Homo sapiens: one gene and its partner. The protein of the gene in region 1 purifies or fractionates together with the protein of each later gene. This does not show direct contact. Each region holds a gene or a part of one and is shown in the gene's direction. Other genes may lie near its edges.

Region 1 (7,581 bases):
ATGAACCTCTACCTGGTGGAAGAAGAGCAGAGGCTCCTCCAGGCTCTGGAGACGGAAGAAGAGGAGACTGCCAGCAGGCTCCGGGAGAGCGTGGCCTGCCTGGACCGGCAGGGTCACTCTCTGGAGCTGCTGCTGCTGCAGCTGGAGGAGCGGAGCACACAGGGGCCCCTCCAGATGCTGCAGGTGAGCCAGTAGGCTTGGCAGGCAGGGTGGGATGTGAGCTCTGACAGGCATGGGCAGGGGGCGCTGGGCTTGGGGAAGAGGCAGCCAACGGGAAAGGGCTGTTAGCTCCCAGTCTGCTAGTCCTGGAGGCTGGGTGGCTGAGGCCAAGGTGCGGGCAGGCCTGGTTCCTCCTGAGCCTCTCTCCTAGGCCTGAAGATGCCGTCTCCTCCCCGCGTCCTCATGGCATCATCTCTCTATGCACGTCTCTGTCCTAATCATCTCCTTGTATAAAGACACCAGTCAGACTGGATTAGGGCCCACCCCAGTGACCTCAACTCCCTCCTTAAAGATGCTATCTCCAAACACAGTCACATTCTGAGGTCCTGAGGGTTCAGGCTTCAACCTGTGAATTAGTGGGGACACAAGTCAGCCCCTTACAGGTTCCAACCTGAGACAGTGTCCCCATTTCCTTCCAAGTCCAGAGAGGTGGCTTGGGACACCTGGCAGCCAGGTGTGGCTTTGGGACAGGGACTCCATGTCTCGGTGTGGAGGAGGTGCACTGTCCCAGGAGTGAGTTGTGTGGCAACGGCAGTGGGGAGGTGAAGCAGCCAGCCTGTCTGCCGGGACCAGCCTGTGTGCCATGGCCCTGGAGAGGGGGCTTGATTACGGCTGATAAGACGCCATCTCTACAAAAACTTAAAAATATTAGCAGGGCATGGTGGCGTGCGCCTGTGGTCCCAGGACTCAGGAGGCTGAGGCAGGAAGACTGCTTGAGCCCGTGAGTTCAAGGCTGTAGTGAGCTATTGCGCCACTGCACTCCACCCTGGGTGATGGTGAGATCACATCTAGGAAAAAAAAAAAAAAGGAAAAGGAAAAACAAAGCAGCCTGTTCACAACCCACTACATTGGTTTGCTGACCAACTGAGGGAAAAGCCCCTGCAGCTGGTAGAAGGGTGCTCCTATGAGCAGAGGGCCAAGCGCGCCACCTGCATGAGAGTCCCTGCCTAGAGTTAGGGTCACGCTCTGGCAACTAGAAATATGGCCTTTGGAAAACAAGTCCCTTGTAGCTTCCAGGCCAGAGAAGTAAACAGTGATCTCTTTAGGGAACTCTGAATCCCTAAAGAGGCTACAGAAAATCCCCAGGTGCCTCAGTCTCTTACCCACCCCCCTCCCTCCCCAAACTGCACCCAATTGCGCCCCCACCCCATTCCTGCTGAGTGGGCTGCACCCACCTGAAATGGGAGAGGAGGGTCAGTGTTGAGTGGCCACTTGCCTGGAAGGGGTCCCTCCGCCTCTCCTGAGTTGCAGGACCTCAGGCGTGTGGCCGTGGGCTGACAGGGTAGCTCAGCTTAGGTGAGGCACTGGGGGCTCTGGTGGTAGTGGGAGCTAGGGCAGTGGGGAAGGCTCAGGAGTGCCATGAAGCTCAATTGTGGGAAGGGAATGCCCAGGGGACAGGATGGGTCTTGCCCTAAGACACGGACAAGAAGGGAGCAGGGACATTGAGGTGAGCCAGGAGCTTGGCTCACTCCCCACCCTCCGTCCCTGTCTTTTGCAGGACATGAAGGAACCCCTGAGCAGGTATGTGGTCCCCTCAGGCAGGGGCGGGGGCAGTGGCAGCGGTGGGCGGGGGGGACAATAAGACTGTCGGGCCAGGGGAGTCAATAAGACTCCCCTGTGTGTGCCCACCGGAGGAAGAACAACGTGAGTGTGCAGTGCCCAGAGGTTGCCCCCCCAACCAGACCCAGGACTGTGTGCAGAGTTCCCGGACAGATTGAAGTGCTAAGAGGCTTTCTAGGTAAGTGGGCACCCAGGGCCAGGACCTCTGACCCAGGATCTCTTGGCGATGCCCCACTGTACCCCCTAGCCTCGGAAGCCACCAATGGGGGGGGTTCTACAAGTGCACTGCCTGGTGACGGTCACTGGCTATTCACTGTGCCTTCGTAGGGCGGCGTTACTGGTGGTTCTAATTCATGGGATGAATCTTGTTGAGTTCCCAGTGGTCTCTCTGCCCAGCCCCCTGTACCTTATTGCCACCAAGGCCCACACACAATTGGTGTGTGGAAGCATCAAGTAACCCCAGATTCACAGCAGGGGAGGCCTCTGCGGAGTTAGGGGACCATTGGCCACATCCACCACTAGGGCCCGGGGACTCCCACCTTTGACCCTGAATGCCCCACACCTCTCCCCATCTCTCCACCACCACGCCCATCTACAGAGGATGTGGTGCCTGATGCCACCTCCGCGTACCCCTACCTCCTCCTGTATGAGAGCCGCCAGAGGCGCTACCTCGGCTCTTCGCCGGAGGGCAGTGGGTTCTGCAGCAAGGACCGATTTGTGGCTTACCCCTGTGCTGTGGGCCAGACGGCCTTCTCCTCTGGGAGGCACTACTGGGAGGTGGGCATGAACATCACCGGGGACGCGTTGTGGGCCCTGGGTGTGTGCAGGGACAACGTGAGCCGGAAAGACAGGGTCCCCAAGTGCCCCGAAAACGGCTTCTGGGTGGTGCAGCTGTCCAAGGGGACCAAGTACTTATCCACCTTCTCTGCCCTAACCCCGGTCATGCTGATGGAGCCTCCCAGCCACATGGGCATCTTCCTGGACTTCGAAGCCGGGGAAGTGTCCTTCTACAGTGTAAGCGATGGGTCCCACCTGCACACCTACTCCCAGGCCACCTTCCCAGGCCCCCTGCAGCCTTTCTTCTGCCTGGGGGCTCCGAAGTCTGGTCAGATGGTCATCTCCACAGTGACCATGTGGGTGAAAGGATAGACACAGACCGGGGGACTCGGGCACTGCTCCTGGCTCTGCAGAAGGTGTGGGCCTTCTGCTTACTGCAGGCCACCTGCCAGGGTTCTCTGGCATCACGCTGGCAGCCATTAGACACACAGGGGGGTTTCTCAAATTCTAAATATAATTGTGATTAGAACTGTCAAACATTAAGAGGGTATACTGACAGATGCTTCCTAGAGGAAACTTTTGAAAGCCCCTGCGTTCTGAGTGGACCGATTTCTAAATCCATACCTACACACCAGGAACAGCGTGGTCACGTTTTTTTTAGCCATGCCCCCACCCCCACTTTGGAATGACAGGAATCTGTGGCTCCCAGCCCCCCCAGGGGTTTAGGTTACTCTGTCAAAGAAGTAGAAATATCCTATGGTGGGGAGGAGCGGGGGTGGTTGCTGTGTCAGGGATGGTCCCAGGCTGCCCATAGAAATGTCCTATGCATCCTATTGGGTCCTTCGATGGGGGAAAATGGGAAAGGCTGAACCCGTAAAAAGCCTCAGAGCTGCCCACCCCCATCCCGTTCGATCCCCAAAGTTGCACGAGCAGGGGCAAAATCCCAAAGAGATTAGGATTTATGTAGGGGCCTCTTTTCCACAGCGCCCTTACCTTTTCCAAGGAACCCCCCACCCACCCCTGCAGGGTCAAGCACTTTAACAGCCTGTGTCAGTCACTAGCAAGGCAGAATTCCAGAGTAAGCGTACTCCTACCTCGACAAAGCCGGAGTGTCTGCGCGAGGGGCTGCCTGGAACAGCATGCCCCTTTGGAGTGGTTCCCGCAGAAAGAATGTGGGCCTCCTGGAGAGCTGGTCCTGGAGGGATGCCCCCGTCCCATCCCCCAACTCCAATCATTCTGACCTTGGCCTGCCAAGGCTGTGAGGGCCGGGCCTTCCGAGGATACCCGCCCTGGGAAGCACGGGCTGAGGGGGTGAGGACGCACTAGGGGTATGGCGAAGGGCTCCAATGCCCCAGGCTGCGGACTCCCTTAGTCCTTGCAGTTGCTTCCGTGTGCCCCGCCCTGAGTCCCCATCCCTCCTTGCCCTGCCCCCTGCTCCATCCCTCCCCTGCGCCCCGCCCCCTGTCCCCATCCCTCCCCTGCGCCCCGCCCCCTGTCCCCATCCCTCCCCTGCGCCTGAGTCCTCCCCAGGGCAGGGGTAAAAGACCTGGCCACAAGAACCGGAGCGGTGGTGACGCCAGGTCAGCAAGTGAAAGCTCTCCAATTCCGTCCCGCCCGCGGGCCGCGTGACTGGCAGCGGCCAATCGGAGGCAAAAGCGGGTTGTTCCAAAAAAAAAAAAAAAAAAAAAAAAAAAAAAAAAAAAACACACAAAACCCACCCAGTCGCTTCCTGCTTCCGCCTCGGCTCCTCTTCCTGCCGGCATCCGGGATCCCTACGTCCCGCGTCCCCCGAGCGCTCGGAGCCTACGCGCCCAGCGCTACCGAAACCCAGAGTCCTGCGCCCTGGAGTCCCCGCGCCCCGGAGCCCGAGCACCCGGGAGTCCCGAGCCTCGCGCCCCGGAGTGCCCGAGCCTGCGCCGCCGCACCCGGATACCCCGCGTCCCCGCGAGCTGCCGAGGCCGCCCGCCGCCGCCCCGCGGACAGTACCGCCTTCCTCCCCTCTGTCCGCGCCATGGCCGCCCCCGACCTGTCCACCAACCTCCAGGAGGAGGCCACCTGCGCCATCTGCCTCGACTACTTCACGGATCCGGTGATGACCGACTGCGGCCACAACTTCTGCCGCGAGTGCATCCGGCGCTGCTGGGGCCAGCCCGAGGGCCCGTACGCGTGCCCCGAGTGCCGCGAGCTGTCCCCGCAGAGGAACCTGCGGCCCAACCGCCCGCTTGCTAAGATGGCCGAGATGGCGCGGCGCCTGCACCCGCCGTCGCCGGTCCCGCAGGGCGTGTGCCCCGCGCACCGCGAGCCACTGGCCGCCTTCTGTGGCGACGAGCTGCGCCTCCTGTGTGCGGCCTGCGAGCGCTCTGGGGAGCACTGGGCGCACCGCGTGCGGCCGCTGCAGGACGCGGCCGAAGACCTCAAGGTGCTCCTGGGCGGGGGTGGCGTGCAGGGGCGTCGGGGAGCCGGGGACTGGGGAGGCCTGGGCGGGTGGGAGGTTTGGGGGACTGCTCCGGGAGTAATCTGTCTCTGTCTAGGGCGGGGAGCTCAGGATGCAGCCTGCTGTGGGCCTGTGAGGGGGGTGTCGCGCAGGGTGGCTGTGGGGGCTCATGACACAGCCTGTTTCAACCAGGCCCCTTGAGGCTGGGACCATGGCCGCCAATGAGACCCTGCTCTCGGGGGTGAGGGGCGTACCTCTCATAGATAGAGGCTAAGAGAGGAAGGTGGAAGGTGGAAGGTGGTGGAGTGGGGGCAAGGAAAATGTGGCCATACCCTGGCCAGCAAGGAGCTGGAATCAGAGGAAAGTGGGAGAACCTCAGAGGTGGCCGATCCTAGATGGACTCCCTGCAGGGACTGTGTTAGCAGGTCAGTACTTAAGTCCTGGGAAAGCCCCAGACTGGGCAGGATGAGGGGGACACAGTCGTTTCCTCTCTAACCTCCCCTCCAGGGCTGCCCTGCATTTCTGGGTGGGGTACTGGGAGCCATCTCTGCCATCTGAGATGCCAGGGCTCAGCCTGCCTTTTCTCCCCTTGTCTTGCTGCTTAAAACCCAAATAAAACCCGAGCTGAAGGGCCTGGGGCACACGTTCCCTGGCCTGCGCTCCCTCCCGCTGTCCTCTTTCCTCGCTGACCTGCTGCAGGTGTGCTCCTGGGAGCCTACGTGTGGGGCAGATGGCAGCATCTTTGGAGCTTTCTTGATTGCACTTTGTGTGTTGCATCATGGTCACTTGTGTGTGCCAGATGAGCAGTTAAGGCAGTGTTAGAATCAGTACTGAGCTTGATCTGTCCCTATCACAGAGCAAACTTCTGGGATACTAGAATAAATCTGAATCTGTCCCCTTCTGCTTTGGATTTTAGCAGAAAGGTGGTTTAGAGCCATATCCGTGGGCTTGTTCAGACACAGATTCATTTGGGTTTTCTTTTCTTTGCCCATGCAGGAATGTCTACACCTGAAACATGTTAGCCCAGCAGAATTACCCTTGTGACACCAATTACCCCAATGGGTGCAGAGAGTGCCCAATAGCTCTATAGAGTTGACTCGATATAGTTTCATGGGATAGCACTTAACCCTTTCTTTTGCAGGTGAAGAAAAAAATTTCCCTCTACCCTGTTAGGTTCAGTGGCTCAGGGCTGCAAATTAAACTGGCACAAGACAAATTAACAGGAAAAAAAATCATACAATTTGATTAATATTTTAAGTTTCACATGCACAAGAACTTCATAGAAAAGCGTATTTCAGCAAAGGTTTGTGAATTGTGGAGAAGTGACTGGACACAGAAATGGGATTGGGCGTCTAGGACTGATAAATTGTGGGAAAGTGACTAGGAAATAGATGGGAAGAATTAACACAAGATAATGGTCATTGTAGTAAGGTCTGTTTAGGCAGAATCATCTCCCAGGATTAGAGTGCCCTCCTCTTCCTGGTAGAGAGAGGGTGCCTTTCTCATGGGGAATGAATACCCTACTTTTAGGCAGATAGGAGTACAGAGAGCTCTTCCTGCATCTGCTTTTACTCAGAATAATTCTTGTACCACAGCGGTATATTTGGGGATGACATCCTGTTCTTCACTGCCTTAGAGCCTAGGTTATGTTAACCACAGCAAACTGCTTTTACCTGCCCCCATGGGCCTAGAAAGCTCAGTCCCACCTATGGGGCTGTGTGTCCACTTGCCAGAGCTGGGGCCCATTAGCTCCATGACAGGTTCACTCCTTGCCTGGCCCTGACCTGGGGTCATGACAGCTGAACAAGCCCCAGGCTGGGTTGCCCCGAGGTGGTAAACAGGGAAGTCCCAGTAAGCTCCAGTTCCAGGAAGCAGCACCATGGGAGAGAGAAGATGGCCCCCAGATCTCTCTGGGTTGTGTGTCAGATGGCACTTGTGTGGGGAGGGGGTTTGCCACAGGAAGGAGGAGGCCAGGGAAGATCCCAGGCCTGCACCAAGCCCCAGCATCCCAGTTCTGACTACACGCAGGGTAAGAGGTTTCTGTTCTGATCTGGCCAGAGACACAAAGATGCAGGTACCTGAAATGCAAGATCTTTGCCATGCTGGGTATGTTGTGCTGCTTTACAGCCCATTCCATCTGATCAAATGCTGTTTGTAACCTTAGTGTTGAAAACTGAAAACGTTGGCCAGGTGTGGTGGCTCACGCCTGTAATCCCAGCAATTTGGGAGGCCGAGGTGGGCGGATCACCTGAGGTCAGGAGTTTGAGACCACCCTGGCCAACATGGTGAAATCCCATCTGTACAAAAAATACAAAAATTAGCTGGGTGTGGTGATGGGCACCTGTAATCCCAGCTACTCAGGGGGCTGAGGCAGAAGAATCACTTGAACACAGGAGGCAGAGGTTGCAGTGAGCCGAGATCGTGCCACTGCACTCCAGCTTGGGGGACAAAGCGAGACTCCGTCTCAAAAAAAGAAAACTGAAAATGTCCCGTAGGGACTGAGGCATTGAGGGAGAAGTGAGAGGCACTGGGCCAAGTGTTTGAGGTGGGGTTGGGGTCACAGGGGCCAGGCCTGAGTTTTCTGGAACAGG
Region 2 (7,756 bases), on another chromosome or scaffold:
AGCCGTCCCAGAAACCAAGATACAGGAGCAAAGGTGAATATATGAGGGATTAACTAAACAGGCACAGTAATCATTAGTACAGCAGAGCACTGTGGGAAAGCTGCAGCATATTCATGCACAGTTTGATATTTGATTTGAATGATGCTCTTCAATCATAAAAGTTCAATTATTCAATTCAGTAAATACTTGTTTAGAGCCAGATATGTGTAAAATCAATGTGTACATACTGTCAAGAGTATGAAAATCAGTGAGATGATTCTGATATTCAACTTGGAGCAAACTTTCTAATAGCTAGAAAAAGACAATGCACAGATAACTAAGTTACTATATAATACAGAAAAAAAAGAAATAAAAGTAAATATTAAAGAAAGGGAAAGGAGGCATTCTAGACATAGGCGATAGATAGCTTCCATAAACTTATGGGTGTCAAAATCCATGTTTGGGGAATGGCCAGTAATACAGCATGGAGTAAATCTGAGCCTATCGTGGGAAGTGAATGAACACGGCACTTCAGATTAGTGTGGATAGATGTGAATGGGTGCATGTGCAGCAGCCAGTCTCTGTCAAAGCACAAGTAAGCCATGACTGTGTTTCAGAGATTTCCTACAAAGCCTCAAATTCTAAAAATCCACGCTGATTCAGAAAATTCATTCAGGATGAGTAATAGCTGAGACATTAATTGTGGACAGATTTGCAGCAGGGAGGTATGAACCCCAGTTTGGACATGTGGAGTTCAGACTGCTTTAGAGATTGAAGTATACATTTCTAGTTGGCAGTTGAATTTGGAGGTCTAGAAATCAGGGGGCAGTACTGTGCTGGAAAATGTAAATTTGGGATTATATTGATGCAAAACTGTGTTCTTCTATGTTGCTGAAGATTTAGTAGCACATATATTATGAAATGATATTGCAAATGGTAACTGTAAAACAGACATTATAGTAGTCATGAGCTATTTTTTTCCACATCAGTATCTCAGCTATTAACCCCTGAAAGATTGTTTGAAACATAATTGTAAAAAGAAACGAATGCCTCGTAGAACACAGTTTCTAATAAATACAGCATTTTTGGTGTGCGTCCATATCATCATCCCTCCTGTCTGCTTATTTCAACCTTTTCTTTGTCCTGATGTATTTAAGTGAGAAAATGGGTTTTGTGAGTGGATTCTTACTATGGATATTTTAAGTTCAGAAGTAACCATCCTATAATTGCATCTATCCTTAATGACTAAAAGAGGACCTTTTGGGGTGTGTTTTATTGATTTCTCTATAAAATTTGCCAATCCCAGATTGCCTTTATAATCTGCTTAAGAAACAGAATGAGATCACAGGGAGAAATAGTATTTGTATTAAATAATTACTAAGCTGCAAACTCACTGAAGGAATTTAACTCTTCTTGAGCTGGAATGGACTACAGTAGAATGAATATGGCTTCATGGCTTCTGCGTAGCATGACCTCAAAGCCTTTTTTTGTGTGACATTTGATATGCACATGGATGAAAGATTTTCTGAGGCCTGATGTGGAAAACGGGTTGGTCGGTCTCTCTCTTCACACTGCACCCCCTCCAAAACACTAAAAGAGGTGCTTTTAGTGTTTACTTTCAATTGCTACATTGTTTGATTTTGAAGTGTCCGCTTCATTTATTCCTTGTGGTGAAAACTCAGTGGGTCCTTTTCATCTGGAACCTCAGATCCCTCAGTTTTGCGAAAAATATATAACATTGATGATTTTTCTCCCTCTGCTTTCTTTTTCTTTATATTGGTAGTTGGACATCGTCATTTCAGTTTCTGAACCTCTTGGACTAGTCCTCTAATATTATACAGTTCTGCACCATTTTTTTTTATCTCTGTCTTTTGCTACTTGGAGAGTTCCTCAGTTTGTCTTCCAACCTTCTATCAAATTTTTCATCTTTGCTCTCATGTTTTTAGTTGCAGGAGTTTCTATTTGTATTCAAAATTTTTAAATAGAGCATTCTTGTTTCAGCATTGTAGCGTCTTTTATTAACTCTCTGAAGGGTCAGTTGTTCAAGTCTCCTGTCCCCAAGATGTGGGCCTGGGTTCCCTTGCTCTGCATTTGGAGCAGGGGAGATGGCCGGCCAGCCCAGCTGTCAGAGTGGAAGTTACCCTGTCAACTGTTCTCCTAATGCAGTTTGAGCAAGTGTTTTACTTCCTTTCAGAATCAGTTTCTGGTCTACTGCTGGGAATTAGGGAGTGCTTGATAGCTAGCCATTTGTGGACAGGGGATATGGGAATTGAACTGCTTTTTAATGAGAGTTCATCTAGTCCTGCAATCTCAGCCCCACCCTCACCCCTGTTTTCACTGCTGCCCATTTCCTCAGTATTTTTGGGGTGGATTGCAAGGAAATAAGTTTCTTTCTTAACTAGAGTCAGGTAAATTTTAAGTTAACCATCTGCTTTCTAGATTCTTAATTTTTAAATGGTTTCCTTTCCCATTTTCTTACTTCTTACGAGTTTGGACATTTTATTTATTTATTTATAATAGACACAGGGTCTGACTGTTCCCCAGGCTGGCCTTGAACTCCTGGGCTCAAGCAGTCTTCCTGCCTCGGCCCCCCCAAAGTGCTGGGATTACAGGCATGAGCCACTGTGCCCGGCTGAGTTTGTACATTTTAAACTCTGCAGTGTTGTAGAAGAATTTTTGGTGGGAGTGTAAGTACACCATTCCATTAATTTCTCCATCTTTGAAAATTTTTGCTCCTTCAATTGTTTTTAAAAGTGTAAGCAAAAATGTTGATTTTGAAGCAAACAGGGTAGATGTAGCTTTCTCCTATTTTTATATTTTTAACTATCATTTAAGTTGTTGAATTAGTAAGAGTACGCATTGGCCAAGTGTTTTACACCTTAAAAATGTATTCTTGCAATAAAGCAAAATGGCAAATAATACTGCAACTTTGTTTCTATCATGAAAATAATTATTCCTTTTAAATTCTCTGGCTTTTCTCCATGTATAGAGGTTTCTGCGGCAAGTCAAATTTTAGTTTTTATTCTTAAGCTTTTCTCAAAAATATTTGATTATAAATGTTCCTCAGTTTTCATTGTATTAGTATCTATATGCATTAGTGTTTGACACACACACATAGAGCTTTTAATGTCTTTGTCTATTTATAATAACATCTGTATCACTTCTAGATTGGTTTGAGTGAATTGATTGGGGGGGAGGTGGTCTCATGTATTGCATTTTTCTTGCTGCTTTGCATGCCCGTTAATTTCTAATTGTATGCCAGACTTTTACCTTGTTGGGTGGATATTTTTATATTCCTATAAATATCTTTGAGCTTTGTCCTGGGACACAGTTAAGTTAGTTGGAAATAATTTAAGGCATTTGGTCTTACTTTTAAAATGTATTTAGTTGTACTGGAACAATGCTTAGATTAGGTTTAGTTTTTTCCTACCACTGAGGCAAGACCTTTCTGTGTCCCTTACCCGTGGGGAATCCTTCAAGTCTTTCAGTCTTGTTCTTTTCTAGAGCCAGGCACTTTGACCTGGAATCCTTTTGGGTGGTTCCTTCCCTGGCCTCTGGAATTTTCTCTCAAGTATGCAACGATCAGGGTTCAGCTGAATATTTGAGTGGCAGCTCTCCCAGGACTCTCTGAGCTTTGGCTGCCTCGGTTTCCCTGGACTCTTGCTTAGTCTCCTCATGGAGTTGTCTGGAGACTCTCAAGCCAGTGAGTGGGGGCAGTTATAGGCTCACCTCAGTTGTTCCCAACTCTGTGTCATTTGTCCTTAGTTGTCTGATGTCCAGTGGCTTGAAACTTGTTGATACGTTTTGCCAGTTTTTTGGTTGTTTCAGCAGGAAGGTGAATCTGGTTCCTGTTACTATATCTTGCCTGGAAACAGAAGTCCCTCATATATATGCGTTTAGTCAAATAGGTGCACTTTTAGGCCCACCAAATAATACCAGACTAGTAGCTTTTGTAGGTCTCTCTCCAAAAAAAAAAAGATAAATAAAAAATACAAATTTTGGTGAGAAAATACTGTTAGCATTCTTGAACATAACAATTGAAATCTGGATAACAAAACTAATTTTTCTTGCCACAGTTAGAGATATTAATACATATTTTATTTCTTGCCATACAGATAACCCTGAGGTTTCCAGTTTCTTGATTCATTGACTCCTTGGTTTCCCACTTAGTTTGCATGGTGTACCCTAGTCAAAAAGAAATATTTCAGAGTTCTGTTTATTAAATATTTACTCTACAAACAACTTTGAAACAGACTATACATTTTATTTGTAAATAACCACATTTTTACTAATAGCATTTGTATTTTCTTGGGTGCTGTTCAAATTCTCAAACTTTGGAATCAGATTTTTGTACTGCCACCCTCTTTTCTTGTTCCACATTGATTTTTGTATGTTCTTGATTTTTATTACAGCAACCGCTAACAACCTAGCTTTGTAAAGATATGACATCATCAAAAAGAATGTAATGTGACCTTATGTTGAAACAGTCAGATATTCTGAGCTGGTGGTTCACACAGTGTCGGACAGATGGTACCCCTGTAAAATGCTGTGCTGACTCAGAGTTCACTCTTTGGAAATACATAGATGGCCCAGCATAGGATTGTGTCTGATTTTTTTTTTCCCTGTATCCCCTTACAATATGTGGATGCATTTTCATCCTAAAGATGTGTTGATTAAAAATAAAGCAGAAGCATTTACTGTTAAAATTTATTTTTAGCCTTATTGGCTAAGCTCAATCATGTGAATTGTTGCAGAAAGCAGTTTTATTATGCCTGCTTTATTTTCTTTTACTGGAATCTAACAATTAGGTAAATAGTAACTTCTAAAATAAAGGTCCAAAAACAGCAGATATTTATTGTTTGTCTGTGGTACCTTGCTGTGTGCCAGGTGCATTTATATTTACCATTTATATACTACTTATATATTCTTATTTTATTTAAAAACACTTTCTCTAAAACTTAAAACAGCGATTCTGAAATTATGCCAACTCTACTTAACCTCCCTGTAGCTTAACCAGGTTTTCAACATGGGGATATTTCTTACTAGAAGACATTAAGGAAATGAAATATAGATATTCTCTATGAAACTAGTATTTATGACTTGATATAATTAAAGAGTAGCCTTACAGTTAATTTTAAGGTATGGTCTGATGGGAATGTAGATAAAACTATTTTCATAATTACCGCATGAAATACTTAAAACAAGTGGTAGTCATCTTACACAATAACATCTATATGCAAAATACCTTTTCTAATGCTGAATACAACCAATGTCATTAAAAGCAGTTGTAATGAAGTGGAAAGATCACTGAATTAGAGAATGAAAACTTTGATTCAGTTCCTAAATTGACAGCCTGTTAGCTGTGTGACATTGAGAGGTGACCCCCTTAACCTTGATGACCTTCTGTTTACTTATAAGTAAAATGCAGAAATAATGACATGTTTCTCAAAGTGTTTTTCATGGTAATGTAAGGACAGTATCAGATGTATGTTGTATGATACTACATACATGATGATGATGTATGCTTCTAGTGCATAGGAGCACGCTTGGGGCTGATCTTTAGCATCTGGTTCTGTGCCTGGTAGATAGTAAGTGCTCAGTAAATACTTGTTGGATTAATTATCATTTGACCCAGTAGTCTCACATTCAATCAAACTTTGAGGACCCAGAAAAATAATTCAAAGACTTGTGCCATCATAGCAAAATAATGCAAACATAGCTGAAATAATTGACAACAGGTTAGTATTATGAAAGATGTGCTCTCTCTTTAAAGAGAATAATTTTAATCATGTACTCTGTAAATTTTTTAGGAGGAGCAAAATAGAGGCAAGCCCAATTGGGAGCATCTAAATGAAGATTTACATGTACTAATCACTGTGGAAGATGCTCAGAACAGAGCAGAAATCAAATTGAAGAGAGCAGTTGAAGAAGTGAAGAAATTATTGGTACCTGCAGTAAGTAATAATTTCCAGACCTTAGATTTGGGCCTCGTCCTTTTTTGTCAGTTTATTTTAAATTATCGTAATGTTTATAAGGAATAGGTTATTGGTTGTTAGAAATTTTATTTAAGCATAAAATTAAAAACACCTGACTGATACTTCTAACATAATAAAAACATAAAGTTCGTATTTAGGGGTCCTTAGATAGACATTAAAAGGGGTTTTGGAGGGTGACGTCGCGTAAGAAATTATCCAGATGCTTTTGTGTTATCAGTTCTCCTTCCTTCCCGGTTTCTCTTTCCCCATCTCTTCCCCCATCTCTTCCCTCTGCCCCCCTTCCTTGGGTTGGCTCCTTATTGTTTCTTAACCCTTTAATATTTTTAGAAATAATAATTGTACTACTCCCAGAGTATAATTTTTTTTTTTTTAACGGGAAATGAAAAATAAATTACTGGTTTTCTGGGCCATTAATTTTTTTTTCTTATATTAGTAAAACTATATGGAAATGTGGACCCTAATTTGCTATTGGAAAAACTAGGGCTGGGTGCGGTGGCTCATGCCTGTAATCCCAGCACTTTGGGAGGCTGAGGCGGTTGGATCACCTGAGGTCAGGAGTTTGAGCCCAGCCTGGCCAACATGGTGAAACCCCATCTCTACTAAAAATACAAAAAATAAGTCGGGCGTGATGGCAGGCACCTGTAATCCCAGCTACTTGGGAGGCTGAGGCATGAGAATCGCCTGAGCCTGGGAGGCAGAGGTTGCAGTGAGCTGAGATTGCGCCACTATACTCCAGCCTGGGTGACAGAGTGAGACCCTGTCTCAAAAAAGAAAAGAAAAAACTAGGAATACTGTTAGTATTGTGTCCAACAAAAAGCATTGGCATTTACATAAATGAGTTATGGTTCCTGCTGCTTTTTATTTCCCAGATAGCCTATTCTTTATTACCCTGATAGTTTATTCAACAAGTAAACTCACAAATCATAAACATTTCCCATTAACTTGATGAAATTAATTCCTTGGAATAAAAGAGTTTTATGTAAATTCTGTTGGTAGATTTTATTTTTTTTAATGATCAGGTTAAATATAAACTAAAATCTATATTTGTGTACTATTAAACCATGGAATCTTTCTCATTTTCCTTAATTGTGTGGTATTGAAAAACTGTATAGAAAAGGAGATTTTCGAAAGTATACTGGGCAATTAGTGTCATGATCAGAAAAAGTTATTTAACATCGACTTTTACTGCTTTAATAACATTTTCTTTTCTGTAGCTTACTTTATTGTAAGAATACGGTATATAACATATAAAACATACAAAATATATGTTGATCAACTGTCAGGCTTCCAGACGACAGTGGGCTATTCGTCACATTTTGGGAGAGTTGAAAGTTACACAAGGATCTTTGATGCAGTCTGTGTCCCTGACAACCGAGCCCTCCCTTGTTGTTTGAGGATCAACTGGATATTGTTAGCGTCTTTTAAATTTTCTATTTACCCAGTCACCTGTAATCTCTTGTCTTGCTTACCATTTTTATTTCTAGTGTTTAGCATAGAGCCCAGCACATAGCAATAACATAGTAAATTGAAAAATAAATGATTGAATCTTGTCATAAGGTAAAATCAGTTCCTTCATCTTCACTATAGAAATGCATAAAATAACTGAATTTTCCTGAAGCATCAAATGATTTGGGTTTTTACTTAAATAAATGTGGGAGACAGAATACATCATATTTTTGAGAACTCACTTCCTGGTTTTTGAATCCCAGCTTTGTGACTTTTAACTGTCTTCATTTTCTCATCTATGAGATTGGAACATGGCCAAGCATGGTGACTCATGC

Evidence for each region. Proteins that work in one complex are often made in the same cells at the same time.
Region 2: the proteins of TRIM11 (region 1) and QKI purify together in Homo sapiens (affinity purification with mass spectrometry; 2 studies listed by BioGRID and IntAct, with this or other methods). This does not show direct contact.

The regions. Positions count from the first base shown.
Region 1 is NC_000001.11:228,403,548-228,411,128, reverse strand, and holds the start of TRIM11 (E3 ubiquitin-protein ligase TRIM11), read left to right. Parts: upstream 1-4,293; 5' UTR 4,294-4,567; coding exon 4,568-4,975; intron 4,976-7,581. Other genes in the region: E3 ubiquitin-protein ligase TRIM17, read left to right, coding at 1-183, 1,718-1,740, 1,854-1,957, 2,378-2,928.
Region 2 is NC_000006.12:163,529,193-163,536,948, forward strand, and holds part of QKI (KH domain-containing RNA-binding protein QKI), read left to right. Parts: intron 1-5,789; coding exon 5,790-5,933; intron 5,934-7,756. UniProt on the Homo sapiens protein: RNA reader protein, which recognizes and binds specific RNAs, thereby regulating RNA metabolic processes, such as pre-mRNA splicing, circular RNA (circRNA) formation, mRNA export, mRNA stability and/or translation.